Regions from separate parts of the Homo sapiens genome. Here region 2 is linked to region 1. Evidence: fine-mapped expression QTL. A gene starts in region 1. The other region holds a variant in brackets. All regions are shown on one strand. Distances are between the middles of the regions. Region 1 holds the start of SRBD1 (S1 RNA binding domain 1). Region 2 overlaps SRBD1 (S1 RNA binding domain 1).

Evidence for each region. PIP is the estimated chance that this variant, and not a neighbour inherited with it, causes the effect.
Region 2: its variant is fine-mapped to the expression of SRBD1 in whole blood (INTERVAL, PIP above 0.99).

Annotation. Positions count from the first base shown.
Region 1 is chr2:45,606,296-45,614,451 of GRCh38, forward strand. It overlaps SRBD1 (S1 RNA binding domain 1), which reads right to left and starts at 4,972. Exons shown (of 21, transcript NM_018079.5): 1 at 4,924-4,972. RefSeq lists an enhancer at 4,623-4,792.
Region 2 is chr2:45,549,817-45,557,972 of GRCh38, forward strand. SRBD1 (S1 RNA binding domain 1) reads right to left here. Exons shown (of 21, transcript NM_018079.5): 11 at 3,807-3,914; 12 at 1,309-1,466. Among named protein-coding and RNA genes, the nearest start is that of SRBD1, 57 kb to the right of the region's middle. The variant C/G (reference allele first, on the strand shown) is at 4,007.

The DNA of each region.
Region 1 (8,156 bases):
ATTACAGGCATGCGCCAACACACCCGGCTAATTTTGTATTTTTTAGTAGAGACAGCATTTCTCCATGTTGGTCAGGCTGGTCTTGAACTCCCGACCTCAGGTGATCCGCCCACCTCGGCCTCCCAAAGTGCTGGGATTACAGGCATGAGTCACTGTGCCCAGCCTATTCTATATATTCTTAATGAATAAAGTAGAGGTCTCTCTACAAAGTTGGCAATGAAATAAATGATGCTGATTGACTGAGTAAGCAGCCAGGTTATTCTTAAAACAAGATAATCATTCCCTTATAATAAAAGTTCATTAAACTTAAATAAAATGATTAATCACTATGTGACTAAAAACTATTTACCAAATTCGAAGGCCAAGCTGTAAAAAAAAGTTAAGACAAATAACCAGAGACATCACATAATACGGGAAAGTAAATAAAATTACTTTAGCTGTTAAGATTAATTAGCTGTTAAAATTAATTAATAAAGGACTTTATAAGTGGCTGCCTGATATTATTACCATAAAACCATCAAACTATAAGGACTACACTAGGCTCTGACATGTTTGGAACCCTTTAAACAAGTTTCTGACCCAGTCATATGTTATAATGCCTCTGGTTCTAACATCCGCTTAGAAGAGGAAATAATCTCTCATGGAAATACTAAAGGGGTTGTCACAAAAGGGAATATGTTCTCCCAGCAGCTATAGCTCAACTCAGTCCAGTAAGTACACAATGATTGGGCAAAATAGTGCTCAGAGGGAACCAAAAGAACAACAGGAAAGCAGTCTGCAGGAAGTAGACAGGATAATCTTCCATCTTTCCCTTCACTCTCTTTTTGGCATATTAGGTTATAAAGATCATCCTTTCTCAAATTAGTATTTTTTAGACATTGATCATGAAAGAACAGGTAATTGTGATTTTTATATTATGTGTATCTTACCACAACAAAATAAGAATGGAGGAAGTTAGTGTATGACAAGGGTGGCATTTAAAATCAGGGCAGGGTAAAAATGGATTATTCAATAAATGGTATTGAGACAACTAGCTATTCCTCTAGAAGAAAAAAAGGAGTTTAATTCCTACCTCCACACCATTAACAAAAATTTATTCCCCAATAACTAATAGTTTAAAATGTACAAATTAAAACTATAAAAGAACTAAGAAATAAAGGTGATTCTTTTCACACTATTGAGGGGAGATGGGGAAATGGAGGTTTTCCTAAATATGACTCCTCAAAATTCCAAAACCAAAAAGACTAACAAATTGCAACACATAAAAATTAAAATCCCAAGCCAGTAGTGGGAGCATATGAGAACCAAACCAATTTACCCTGCAGTATTCTAAAAAAAAAAAATTCATATGAAGCAGTAGCTGATACCTTTGGAATTAAAGGTGAAACGGGTTAGGGCTGTGTATAAACTGACAAAGGAATATCTCTAAGTGTCCTACCTCACTTCATGCTATTAGGCAACTGCCCCAGGAAAAAGACTGTAAGTTTATTCTCTGGAGAAGGTATTAATGAAACAGTCTAGACTGTGGGCATGGGAACCATACAGACTGAATGCTAAAGGCAGAGAACCCTAGTCTTCCGCCACTAAATTCCTAAAATACTGCCCTCTAGGGAGGAGAATGGGAAGGCTTTTCTCTGGAGAATCTAACCAGTCCAAGAGTAAAAACTTGAAGGTGCTAAGCTTCCCATCAAACAACCCACCCAGATCACCTTACAATCACTCCTACCACCACATTCTACAATATGCCTGAATTCAGAACATTCCCACACAGACTACCATATACTAATTCTATCTCCACACTTCAGCCTTAACAGAAATGTGTTTAAAATAGGGACAGGCAAACCCTTGGCAGGCTTATGTTTTTGCTTAACCATTATCCTTAAAGAAGGCTCCCCTAAATCAAATATTTCCAACTGCCTCTTTATAAGGCACCCCGAAAGCAATATACCATGGAAAGATGAGTGAGTTGTAATATTTCTTTTCACAAATGTTAAAAATATCAATGTAAAAGGAAAGGTGGGAAAGCAGAATCTGCATGAACACACAAGCCAATTTCAAGCAGATCAGATTTAGAAAGAATATATACAAAAGCTGAAGACTTGGAAATTATGTCTTTAAAACTACCTACGACAGGTACACCCCCAGGAGTATGTATTCTCCAGTTTAAACACCAATATTCTTGAGGCCTGTTTCTCCATCTCCACTACTCCCATATCCTCTTACTTTGTGTCATAAAACTTGTTAGATTAACCAAAACCTCATCCATCTCCACGGTTTTACATACCGATGTCACCTACTTATTAACAATCCTAATCCCTCCATCCCAAACCGTGCCTTTAACATTCAGATTTCTATAATAAACTGCCTGTCTCTGAAACTATTTAGATGTCTCACAGTTAACTTAACACATCCACAATGGAACTCTTGATGACCATTTCTTGCTCTAAAACCTGTTCCTATTCCAGTCCTTCCCATCTCAATAAGTGGCACCCACCTATTTGCTAAGCCAGAACCTTGAAAAAAAAAATTTTTTTTTTTTTTTGAGACGGTCTCACTCTGTCACCCAGCCTGGAGTGATCTCAGCTCACTGCAAACTCTGCCTCCCAGGTTCAAGCAATTCTCCTGCCTTAGCCTCCTAAGTAACTGGGATTACAGGCGTGTACCACCACACCCAGCTAATTTTTCTATTTTTGATAGAGACGGGGTTCGTCACGTTGGCCAGGCTGGTCTCGAACTCCTGGCCTCAGGTGATCTGCCTGCCTCGGCCTCCCAAAGTGCTGGGATTACAAGTGTGAGCCATGGCGCCTGGCCAGAAAATTCTTTAACAGCTTCATTGACATATAATTGACATGCAATACACTGCACATGTTTAAAGTGTGCAAATTTGATGTTTTGACATATGTATACATATCACTACAATCAAGAAAATGAACACATTATCATCCTCCAAAGTTCCATTTGCTAAGTCAAAATGTTACAAATCTTTTTTTCTTTCATCTCACATATCCAGACTATTAGTAAGTCACATAAGATCCTCCTCCAAAATGTCTTGAATCTCCACGATCTTCAGTGAGCCTTTAGTCCTCAACCTCCCTCACTTGAACTACCACACTCGCCTCTTAACTGCCCTCCCTACTTCCACTCTTGCCCCTGCAACTCATTCTCCACTTATCAACTCAAGATCATTTAGAATATGCTTTAGAAACAACGAATTACTTCCCACCCCATCCTTCACTTAGAATCAAGCCACATTTTTATGAGGCCTTTGAAAAGGCCCTGTCGGACTGAGCCCTGCTCACCTTTCTAACCACCTTTACTACTTGCTGGAGCTCCTCAGCTCTTGTCATAACATTCTTTCCCACCTCAGGTACTCTCTGCCTGGAGTATTCTTCCCCCTGCTTGTCAATTGGCTGGCTCCTTGCATCCCTTAGATCTTAACATTTCAGGCCTAAAATAGGTTTCTCAATTATATTTTAAAAGGAGCCTATTTACTTCCTGTATACAGTAGGTTATAACACAATCTGTAATTATTTTTATTTTACTTGTTTATTGCTTGCACTGCTGTCAAGAGAGTAAATACCATGAAAGAAGGAAATGCATGTGCCTTATTCACTTCCATATCATAGAACCTAGCACTTAACAGATGCCCTACAACTATTAAATGAACATAATATGTACAAATATGGTCTCTACAGAGGAATATACATTTATTTTCCACCACTCTTAGGCAATGCCACACATTGCATTCATCTCTTTCTGAAGAAGTGATGGCACATAAGAATATTCCTATTCTTCAGTGACTTGGGATTTTTCCCTCCTTTCAAACTATCTTAATCACTGTAGGCACATGAGCATATTCCAAACCAATAATTTGGAGGTTGCTATGATGTTACTAAGGGAAGAGCCACTAAACTAGGACGACTGCAAATCAGGACAAAGGGGCAAAAGGACGTGCACACTAACAAATACTAAATTAAAATTGGAAAAAAAAATTTAAATTCAAGAAGGCAAACAAAGGAGGACAATTTCTTAAGAAGCACCTAAACAAGTTTCCATGAAGGACCAACAGAGTGCTTGAATGTTAGCAGATTCCCAAGTCACAAAAACAAAATACTAGAGCTGAAAGAACCTGAGATCAGACAGTCCCGCTATATTCAGAAATCTGAGACCCAATGAGGTGAAACAGTTTACTCAAAGGGGAAAGATATGTGGCAAAGGACTATAGCCCAGTGCCTGGAACACCAAGACTAGTCTCGTTTCCCATTCCACACACAATATGTTAATGACATGTCACGTGAGGGGTTCGAGGAAAGTTGCCTAGAGAGTTCCCAATTCATTCCTTTCCTCCGGTTACTGAGCGCCTCCTACATGCCAGGCGCACTACAGAAGGTGCAGTTGATTCAGACAGGGCCACCATGACCGTGAAAAGGGTGCTTCCTCTCCCACCTCCGATAATTTTAGGTATAAAAACAATCCAGGTAAATTAGCCGGGTGTGATGACGGGCGCCTGTAGCCCCAGCTACTCGGGAGGCTGAGGCAGGCGAATGGCGTGAATCCGGGAGGCGGAGCTTGCAGTGAGCCGAGATCGCTCCACTACACTCCAGCCTGGGCGACAGAGGGAGACTCCGTCTCAAAAAAAAAAAAAACAGGCTTGCCCAGGCTTTTCTATGTCTGTTATGCGCTAAGAGCTGCAGCAATTTGGCTGAAAAGAGGTGTCACGAGGTAGCTAGGAGGGGTTTTCGGGTGGTCGGTTGTGAGAGACCGCTGACAGTAAAATGTAATGAACTTCTCACTTTTAAAAAAGGGGTGTTATTGCCCAAATGAGCGCTCAGAACTTTTTTAATGGCCCCAAAGATCCCGGAGCCCGGACGCCGGGCTCTTGAGAACCCGCAAGACGACCGCCAAGGCGCACGCACAGCTCACCTTCCCGCCCGGCACGTCAGAAGACCCGAGATTCCGTGAGTGCCACCGCACCTTCCGGTTCCCGCCGGAAGTTTTTCAAACGCCAGAAGGTCCGCCTCGCTTCTTCCGGACCAAGTTAGCCACAGACCTCCAAGGCGCGGCGCTACCGAACGGGGCGGAGCCAGGCTGGACGGAGGCGGGGCTAGAGCGAGGATCCCGAGGGAGCGCCGGGGTGGGGCTGGTTCGTAGAAATGAAAAATGACTTTTTTTTTACGTGTTATTTACCAAGAACACTAAACTCTTAAGCCCACAGATACAGCCAAATAAATTAGATTATAAAAGTAGGGAAATAAGGCTGCTGTTGTCTACATTCGAATTTAGCAGATCAAAACCCCATGGATTTGTTTTAGAAAATTCTAAAAAGCAGCTTTCCACTGCTAATGACTTATTTCCAGGGACTCTGAGTACTGAAGAGCCTAGCAAGTTATTGAAATGACCTGTGACCGTGCCTTGTTGCAGATCTACCGGAAGTGAGCATAGATTTTACTGGATAATTTTTGTGATTGGGGGAAAAAAAAAAGGATTCTTTCTAAATTTAGTAAATCTAATCTTCTATATCTGAGATTGTTGGCCAGGAAAGATCAGTTTCCGAGATTGTTTAGGGATTTTTTTTTCCTTTTAATTAGCACAGTCGTATGTTGCCTTTAGTGATGGTTCCAGAAGGCCTAGAATTGTCTACTACAATCACAGTCTCCTTCACAATTTATGGTCCTGAAGAAATACTAGAGAACACCTTACCGTTCAGGATTGTGGGAAGAGAAACCAGATCATAGAAATCAACAACAATAATGTACTACTTACTATTCACCTACTTTTGATGTTGCATTTGCTACTCAGGTTTATGGTAAGGGGTTGTCTTGGTCAATTTTCTGCTGCTGTAACCAAATACCATAGACTGGTAGATTTATAAAGAAAGAGATTTGTTTGGCTTGTAGTTCTGAAGGCTGGGAAGTCCAAGACAGAGGGCATTATTGTTGTGTCAAAATATGATGGAGGGCATCATACTGGGGTAGGGGTGGGGGAGGCATGTGAACCCAATTGACTCCCGAAATAACTAACCCTCCTGTGATAATGGAATTAACTCATTCATGACCTAATCATTTCCTAAAGGTCCCACCTCTTCATACTATTACAATGACAAGTTTCAACTTGAATTTTTGAAGGGGACATTCCAATCATTGCAGAGGTAGTAAGGGTAAAGGTGAACTAATATACTGCAAAGTCTTTTGACATAAGTCCTGCCCTGGAGGAATTTACGACCAAGAGTAGGAACCAGATACAGCCAGAGGAAACAGACACCCAAGCAAAACAGTCTAGCTTCAAGGGTTGGGTATGCAGGTAGTAGCCACACTACAGTGAGGAGGAGAGTAAGAGTGGGCCAGCAAAGCATTGAAGCTTGACTTTCCTCTCCCCACAAGGGATTTTTGCCTTACAGCTGGGGAAGAAAAAAAAAATCACAAAAATAAATAGCCTGTTAAGATTTTAGACATCAGACATCTGGGGAAAATAAAATCTGAAGCAGGTTCTCTAAAATTAAAGTATGTAGGTAGTGGCCTACTCTAAAGGCCAATAAGGACTGTCCAGAGAATATTTCCCTTGGAATTCTATAAGAGAGTCACTCCCACTACACGCTGTCAAGGAAAATTTGTAATCACTTAAGTATAAAACAGGCCCTCCCACAAAAACTGCCTTTTCTGTCTAGGACATTGCCCAATCTATTGTTTACTTTTGGATCTCAAGTGCTGAATTCCAAGAAATTCATGGGTTTAGACTGAAAGCCTGGAATAATCCGGACACCCACCTGAGACTATGCAATAGGGTTTGGGAGTAATGAAAACATGTTTTGGATTTGATGGAGGTTGTTTTATCCCTCCAAAGTATATAGCTCTTCCCATGATATTCACTGATACATTATCATTTGTATGTTATTATCTGTTTTCAAGTCCTTCCCCTATGGGTTCTAGCTCCCCAGGGCAAATGTAATAATAATAGTAATAACTTACCTTTATTGATTACTTACCTGTGCCAGGCACTAAGTTAATGCTTTTAGATGTATTTATGTATATAATTCACATATTACCCCAATGCAATATTGCTATTAAACCATTTTTATAAATGAGAATACCAGGTATAAAGAAGTTAAATAATTCATCTAAGGTCACATCAGCTAATAAATTGTAGATCTGAGATTCAAATCCAATAATCTGCTTTACTCCAAAGCAAGTACTCTGAAAGGTATCCACATACAATTTGCTGTCTATCCACAGGGGATTGGTCTGAGGACCCCCCACAGATAGCAAAATTTACAGATACTCAACCAATCAGTGATAGAAAAAGTTGGCCCACCACATCTGCAGGTTCCATATCCATGAATGCAGATACAGATGGCCAGCTGTACCACAAACTCAAAGCAAAGACCTTTTCTCGCTCCACTATGGTGGCCAGTGAGACTCTCAATGTTTAAGGTGCTCCAGAACTGTCGAATCTCTAAATACTCTAAATAAAGTACTGTCTAACCACCTGAAACATAACAAAGCTATTCTCTCTATTGGCCTCAAACTAAGTTTCATAAGAACAAAAATTCTTAATATATTAATAGATGCAACTGTTTCACCTACTAATAGATATTTGGATCTAGGAACTAACTCTTGGTAATTTTTTATCTCCCCCTCTCCAACTTCTCCCTCCACCTACACAGTGCCTAATAATGCTTAACATATAATAGGTACTCAATAATATAGTAGACTAACTCCTGGACCCAAAAACATGTCTAAAGTAAAAACAAATTTTCCTCCCCTCTCCACCTTCTCCCGCCACCCACACAGTGCCTAATAATGCTTGACATATAATAGGTACTCATTAAAAATAGTACACTAACTCCTGGACCCAATAATATGTCTAGAGTACAAACAAATTTCTCTTATGAGAAAAGTAAGTTAAAGCTCTTGACACAGAAGGTGGGTTGCCATTTTAAAAATCAAGTGTACTTATGAAAATTCAAACATTTTATCTCTGAGAGTCAATCAGTGTGATGGTTAATTTTGGGTGTCATCTTGACTGGATTAAGGGATGCTCAGACAGCTGATAAAACATTACTTCTGTGTGTGTCTGTGAGAGTATTTCCAGAAGAGACTGACATTTGAATCAGTAGACTAAGTAAGGAAGATCTGCCCTCACCCAATTTCGGTGGACAC
Region 2 (8,156 bases), 56 kb before region 1:
CACGCCACTGTGCTCCAGCCTGGGTAAAAGAGCAAGACCCTGACTCAGTAAAAGTTAAATAAATAAAAGAATAACATAAGTCAAAATTAGAAAATCTCAGAAATTAGATGAGATAAACTGGGAATGAATTCGAGATGAAAGAAAAAATTATTTCAGAAATGAAAATCTAAACTTAAAAAATTAAAATAGTAAAGGCTAATAGAAAATAAAACAAGAAGTTAAAAGATCAAAAACATTAGAAATAAAGAAGTTCATAGGGAGCTATAACCCTATTTTTCAAAGTATCAAATGGAAATTCTAAAACTGAAAAACCAACCACTTGAACCCAGTAGATGGTTTTAGTAACAAATTAGACATAGCAGGATAGAGGATTAATTAACTTAGATGATCAACAGAAAATAAACAAAAAGGAGAGAAGAAACTGAAAGGTATAATATGTATGTAATTGGAGTTCCAGAAAGAGATGCTAGAAGCTCCACAAACCCTAAGTGGAATTCATGCAGAAAAGAAAAGACAAGAAAACCCATACATACACACCCACTGAAGCACATCATAAGAAAACTGAGAAACACAAAGAGAAAATCTTAGCAGCCAGAGGAAAAGGACATATTACCTTCAAAGGAACAATAACAAATAACCACAGTTTGGCTGACTTCTCAACAAAAATTACAGTAGCCAAAAAAAAAAAAAAGAATGACATCTTTAAAGTACTGAAAGTAACTGCCAATCTTGAATTCTACACCAAGCAAAAAATATTCTTCAAAAATGAAGGCAAAACAGAGATGTTTTCAGACAAACTAAAACTAAGACAATGTGACTCATTAAAAGTAATAGCATAGAGTTCTTCAGGCAGAAAGAAAATGATCTCAAATGGAAGCACGGAAATGCAAAAGAAATGAAGAATATCAGTGTAAATGTAAGTAAACAGGAAAAAAAATTGAGCAAAACAATAAAAATGTCTTTTGGTATTTAAAATATAAGCAGAATTAAAATGCATCATATATAAATGCATCACAATAATAGAATCTGATGGGGAATTAATAGAGTTCAAGTCCGAGCCTAATTAATCCTCAATATCTCTACTGAGATATAGGAAGCATATAAATGATAGTTGTATATTGAGGAGTTTGATCAACAAATGAGAGAAAAATGAAGTTTGATTATCTGGTTCCCAACACCCCTGTATGTGAGAAAACCACTTTTTAAGCCTTTAAAATTAACATTATTTCCAAATCCTCATGAAATGTATGAAGTGAAACTTATAACCAACCAAACAACTTTTACATGGAAAATTGCAAGACAACTTACTAGTAGGAGAAATTATAGCTAATTTGCAACCATGTTTATAACCAGGATCCACTCCCATTAAGGTGCGCCCTGGAACAGGGCTTGTTAAAAGGAGCTGACGAAGGTTCCGTCCAAACATCATTACTGATTCCTTCTCTGCATCTGATGTTAGTTTGGCTCTTTAGAAATAGAAGAAAAGAAAAAGTTTTTCATTCACCCAAATTTTCTTTCCAGAAAAGGAGCAGAATTCATTTTGTACAATTATTTCTCAAAGGATAATTTATTATAACAATATAACTTAAGAGAAAAATATACAAAAATTATATTGAGTCTATTTTCACTAATCACAGTAATATGATACCACAAGCAATTCTGAAGCAAGTCTTGTAAGTTTATCATACCTACATTACCTCTCTATCTGCTCTCTACTGTATATAAAACCCATATTTATAAATATGTGTATATGTGAGAAAGACAGAGAGTGTACGCACATTTGAATGTCACATGGGATGCAAACAAAAGTAGGCACAGTGGGCAGGGAGAAAATATCCCGGACAATGGAAACAGCATATGTAAAGGCTCATGGCTCATCATAGAAACAGCAAGTAATTTCGTATGCTAAAGTAAAAAGAAACAGCGAGACAGAAGTAGAGGCAAGAAAAAAACAGATCACAAAGGGTCATGCATGTTCTTCTCAAGAGCTTGGATTCTATCCTGGAGACAAACAAGATCAGCTGAAAGAAGTATACAAGCATGAAATTGTGAGATGAGAATTTTGAAAGGGCGATTTGTAATATGCATTGGAAAAGACAAGACAGAAGACCAAGATCATCTATGACGCTAGTTCAGTAATCCAGACAAAAAATGATGATGTCCTGAATTAAGACAGTCACCACGGAGATAAAGGGGAGGAAAAATTCAAGTTATAATAAAAGATGGCAAAATAGATAGCACTTTGTAACTGACAATGTAGAACTGATGACAGAGATAGATGTGAAAAATGACACATGGATGAATGATCATGACAGTCACGGGAATAAGATATGCAGACGTAGGCTATGCATAGTATACAGTCAACCAAATTAAGTGACTGCAAAATAAAATGGTCTAAAAAACAAACCAAGTGGGAGTGTCCTCCTCTTTAACTGCTATTCAGGTTAAGTATTCCTATCAGGAGGCGTATCTGTAGATAATACCTGCAAACTAACTTATAAACTGAAATAAGTTATATTATTTTAACCATGGGCATTTTAGAAAAAGAAAGAGAAAGTACTCTTGCTTATCTACTGCTAATGGAATTCAGAAACAGTTTATACATTAAATGATCCCACATCAAACTGTTTACATTAAACCTTGATGAAATTATTCCACATGCAGTGAAGCTACTCAAATCAAAAATATATGCAAAAAATGTCAAAAGTGCCACTAGACATAAGCAACATGAGAAAACAATAAAAAGAAAAACATACAAAAAGAAATTGAAATTTTAAATAACATAATTTTTTCCTTCAGGAAGAACCAAATTCCTAATTTTTAAAGTGTATGCCCTAGCTCTCAAAAGCAAGCGATGTTAGACAGCTTGAAGTGAAATACAATTCTAAAAGGAACAATATTTTTAGGCTACATCTAGGCTAAAATGGATGTAACAAGAGATTAAATGACTTTGGTAAAAAGAAATTGGACAACAGGACTATGTGTCTTTTTTAATAGTACCTGCTCACTCCCTGCTCTGAACCCATCTTAATTCAATGGTCAAGTCCAGCAAAAGAGAAACAAGCCCTACATAGGCTGCTAAAAATTCTAGAGAGGTTGAAGAGATGGCTACAAAACTACAGTTTTCAAGTAGCCCTTGCTGAAACCTACAAAGAAATGAGAATGAAGATAATCTATAATATTTTGGAAGGAATGAATTAGGGAATGTCTAGTTTCTAAAGATTGGGTGCAAAAACAAGGGTTACAGAGAAGCAAGAGAGAGGAGTTTTGCCTCCCTACATTTCTTTTCTTTCCATCTTCTGTCCTGAAAACAATTCTGCACCTCACCTCTTTTGCAGTTTTCATCTATATTACTTAGTCCTTCTATTAGTCCGTTCACATTGCCATTTTAATAATCTCCTAATATTTATCATTGCTGATAATTTTTCATCCAAATAACTCCCATTTGGAGTTAAAAACAAAGTAATTGATTCATCATGTACCCTACTGATTTCCTTATGCTTTCTTTGGCTCTCTTACCTCTAAAAACTGCCTCCAGCTGCAAGACTAGTATTGCAGGATTTCAAGGGGTACACATTAAGTGGTCAAGATTTGAAAAACATATCATAATTAAGAACTATTTTTATGATCTATGCATGTGAATGCATCTACAGATTGAAATCAAGCCTTAACTTTAACACTTTGTGATGCTGACTAAATTCTTTCGATTGGTTAATCAATCAACAAACATTAGCTACACACTGTAATGGTACTAGTATCATATAACAATAATCAGTACACAAAATTAAACAAGACAAGATATATACCTGAATTCTCTACAGAGAAGAGGATAAATAAGGCGTTTAAAGGAATCATTCAGTGAATTATATAAGATCTTCATTAACTCTGGCCTTGCAAAGCTACGTGGTCTCCACCTGCAAAACAGAAAAGCCCACACTAAAACTGATGCAACAATAAATAAGGCCATAAAAAGGCTCCCAAAAAGAAGGGAGATGGAATACAGAAG[C/G]GGGGAAAACCTTTATTGAAGCCAAAGTAACATAATCTGTGAGGAAAGGCTGTGGTATCTGAAAATTATTACTATGACATCTGGAGTTTTTATTTTAAAAATCCTAGTAACTATCTATGGTCAGATATAAAACAAGGAAAAAATTTCCTCTTCAGTAAAGGGTCTCCAAAGCATTATTAATAATGGCCAAAATCTTAAGATACAAGAAAGTCACCAAAAAATTATTACACCACTGCTACAGACTGAATTGTGTCCCTCCCCATATCCATACCTTGAAGATGGGGCTTTTGGGGGATAATCAGGTTTAGATGAAGTCATAAGGGTGGGGCTCTCAGGATGGAATCAGTGCCCTGATAAGAAGAGATAACAGAGGGCTTGCTCTTTCTCTCTCTTTCTCAACCATGTGAGGACACAGCAAGAATGCAGCTGTCTACAAGCCAAGGAGGGCAGCCCTCACCAGAAAATGAATCAGCTGGCATTTTGATCTTGGACTTCTCAGCCTCCAGAACTATGAGAAAATAAATTACTCCGGTTGAAGCCACATAGTCTGTGGTATTTTGTTATGTTAGTCCAAGTTAAGACAGCCACTGTATCCTTTTTTCCCCCTTTCTTTATCTCTTTCTGAGAGTTAAAGTAGACTGAGCAAAGCAGAAACTCTGTTTCAACCCTTGCCTCTTGCCATTTCTGAGAACTTACTCTATTGCTCAGGCCACAATGCTCTACCAGGCAACATCTGCATATGTAATGAGGACTATAAATGCCACAGAACCAATTGTTAATGAACACTGGGGAAAGAATAGAAGAGAAAATCACAAGCTAAAAGGACAAATGTAGCCTCACTGAAACGGTCCCTATAAACCTTATAAAATTAATCAGGAAAGAAAGGAGGGCTAGAAATGAAAATAAACCAAGCTGGCAGCACATTCAGCATTAATCATGAGGTCAGCTCACTCTCTGACCTGCTTCCTCATAGTTGTTTGGTGCCTACTGTCCTAGAATCACACAGACCCTGTTACTAGATTATAGCTCCCCTTAACTGCTCTATAGGTAACAACCTGAACATTATGAAATGTTAAGTTTTCCATTTGAATACTCTTTCAGGTCCTGTGTACCAATGAAACTACTGACATCAGCTACTATGAAAGACTCCCACCAAGAAGCTGACTCACCAAACAGTACAGTTTCCATATGCTGATGATTTTATCCCCCTTACCCCAACCAATCAAAGACCACAAATTTCCAGCTCCTTTCCCTCCACGATCCCCTTAAAAATCCTAGCCCAGGCTGGGCACAGTAACTCACATCTGTAATCCCAGAGTATGGCCTTCCAGAGGCCAAAGTGGGAGGATCACTTGGAGTTCAAGACTAGTCTGGGCAACATAGCCAGACCTTGTCTCTACAAAAAATAAAAATTTAGCTGGATGTGTTGGTGTGTGCCTGTAGTCCCTGCTACTTAGAAGGCTGAAGCAGGAGGATCACTTGAGCCCAGGAGGTTGAAGCTGTAGTAAGCCATGATGCACCACTGCACTACAGCTAAGCAACAGAGACCCTTTCTTAAAAACAAAAACAAAACAAACAAAAAAAACCCAGCCCAGAATTTTTTGGAAAAATGGATTTCAAGGCCTCCTCCCATCTCTTCACTCAGTGCCCTGCAATCATTAAACCCTTTTTTTTTTTTTTTTTTTTGAGACGGAGTCCTGCTCTGTCGCCCAGGCTGGAGTGCAGTGGCGCGATCCCGGCCCACTGCAACCTCCACCTCCTGGGTTCATGCCATTCTCCTGCCTCAGCCTCCTGAGTAGCTGGGACTACAGGCGCCACCATACCCGGCTAATTTTTTGTTTTTGTATTTTTAGTAGAGATGGGGTTTCACTGTATTAGCCAGGATGGTCTCGATCTCCTGACCTCGTGATCTGCCCATGTCAGCCTCCCAAAGTGCTGGGATTGCAGGCGTGAGCTACCTCGCCAGGCCCATTAAACTCTTTTCTCTGCTACAAACCCTGCTGTCTTGGTGTATTAGTCTGTTACGGCACAGTGGGCATATAAACCTGTTGGTCCTATGATACTATCCATTCTGTGTTTTCATCCATCTACAGCATCTCTGCCCTTGCCCTCTTGAATGAAAACCATTAACAAAATATTAATTAATATTACCTTAAGGGTACTCTCATCCCCTTTACTTATCTTAGGCTAGGAAATGAACTACATTTCACTGAACAAACATTTAAGCACTTACAATGTTTTATTCCAAAGATTACATAATAGCAACTAACTGAATCTCTTCCATAGAAAGTGTCATACAGTTTTTAAATTTTAGTGGAAGTGCTTTTAGGCAGGATATACATCCTTCCTTCCACCTAAATCCCTGCTGCTCCCTACTGTAACATTTGCCTGAAGGAATTAGGGATACAGAGGAGTAGGATTTCTCTACTCCATTGAAAAAAGGCATGAATTCAACAAACACACCTTTTTTCAATGAAACAAATATCTAAACAAATGTATGGCACAATAAATGTAAAAACAGAAATAAATGTTAAAGATATGAAGAGCTCAAAAGCAGAAGTGACAGCAAACAGCAGTATAATATACTAGTTAAAAGTATGATCTGTTCTGCTCTATGCTCTATTACTTTTTTTTTTTTTTTTTTTTTTTTTTTGAGACAGAGTCTCATCTCATTCTGTCACCCAGGCTGGAGTGCAGAGGCACAATCTTGGCTCATTGCAACCTCCACCTCCCAGGTTCAAGCCATTCTCCTGCCTCAGCCTCCCGAGTAGCTGGGACTACAGACGTGCGCCATCCCGCCCAGCTAATTTTTGTATTTTTAGCAGAGACAGGTTTTCACCACTTTGTGCAGGCCAGTCTCGAACTGCTGACCTCAAGTGATCTACCTGCTTTGGCCTCCCAAAGTGCTGGGATTATAGGCGTGACCCACCATGTCTGGCCTTGCTCTATGTTCATGGTGGATTTACTTAAGTATATCTGTGCTACTATTTCTTCATCAGTAAAATGGGAGTAATAATAGTCTACTTCATTGAATTGTTGTGAGTTAACATAAGCAAGGGACTTATAATGGTGCCTAATACATTCTATGTAAGTTTTTGCTGCTGCTGCTGCTGCTGTTATTATTAATATGGGGAATCCAATGTCAAGAAAGACTTCCCAAAAGAAACATCTGAGATAGGTTTTTTTAATGAATTGTAGTTTGCCAAGCAAGACAAAAGAATAAGGGCATTCTGGGAAGAAATTATAGCATATGTAAAAGCTTAGAGGCATGAAAAAGCACGGTAAATTGAAGTAACTATAAGGTTAGCGCTTCTAGGAAATAAAGTGGCAAGATCAACAGGAGGAAAGATGAGGGTAGAAAATGTGGCAGTGGCTGGATCATAAAGGGTCTTATACACAAAGCTATGGAGCCTGACGAGGTAGGAGAGAGAACATAGTCCTGAATCATGCAACAGTATGCTAGACAGATAGTCCTTAGAGGTAGGAAGACCCTAACAGAGGGATTTGTTTTAATGTATGTATCTGATTTGTCTCCTAAGGTGTTGCCCTTTAAGCCACTGCTTGCAGGAAAAAGCCAGAAATCTTAAATATCACCTACCCATACCCTCTCAAACCCCCAGTAGTCTTCTTCAAGTCTCAAGATCCTCCCTTGGCTTGGACTGCTCTCCTCCCCTTCCTGGAACAGAGAGCTATGGGTCTATTTAATACTTGAGGATGCCTCAATCATGCCCATTCAGTTGAACTTTAGACCACTAGACCCAGCCCTGAAAGAGAACAGCTACATTCATTTCCTACATTATAGAAACTCCTTTTTGCTCCTTACACCAAAACAATTCCTGCCCTTCACCGGCTTCCTGGGATTTATTGAAGGCACTTAGCATACTAAGGAACCTGAAATAGTATAGTAAATTCACAAACCCTGTTGCTTAAATCTTTAAACTTAAAGAAAATATGATGGGTTTGCCTTACAGGAAGTCATCTCAAAACTTGATTCTTCCTCTAATTCAACAGTTAAATACATCTGAATAAAACTAAGGAGGACTCACTTAAACCAAATATACATTGCAAAACACATGCTATGTATGTTGCATACAATGAAGCACAAAACTGAGGTGAGGGATCACAAACTCCTCCAAAGAAATATTCTCCA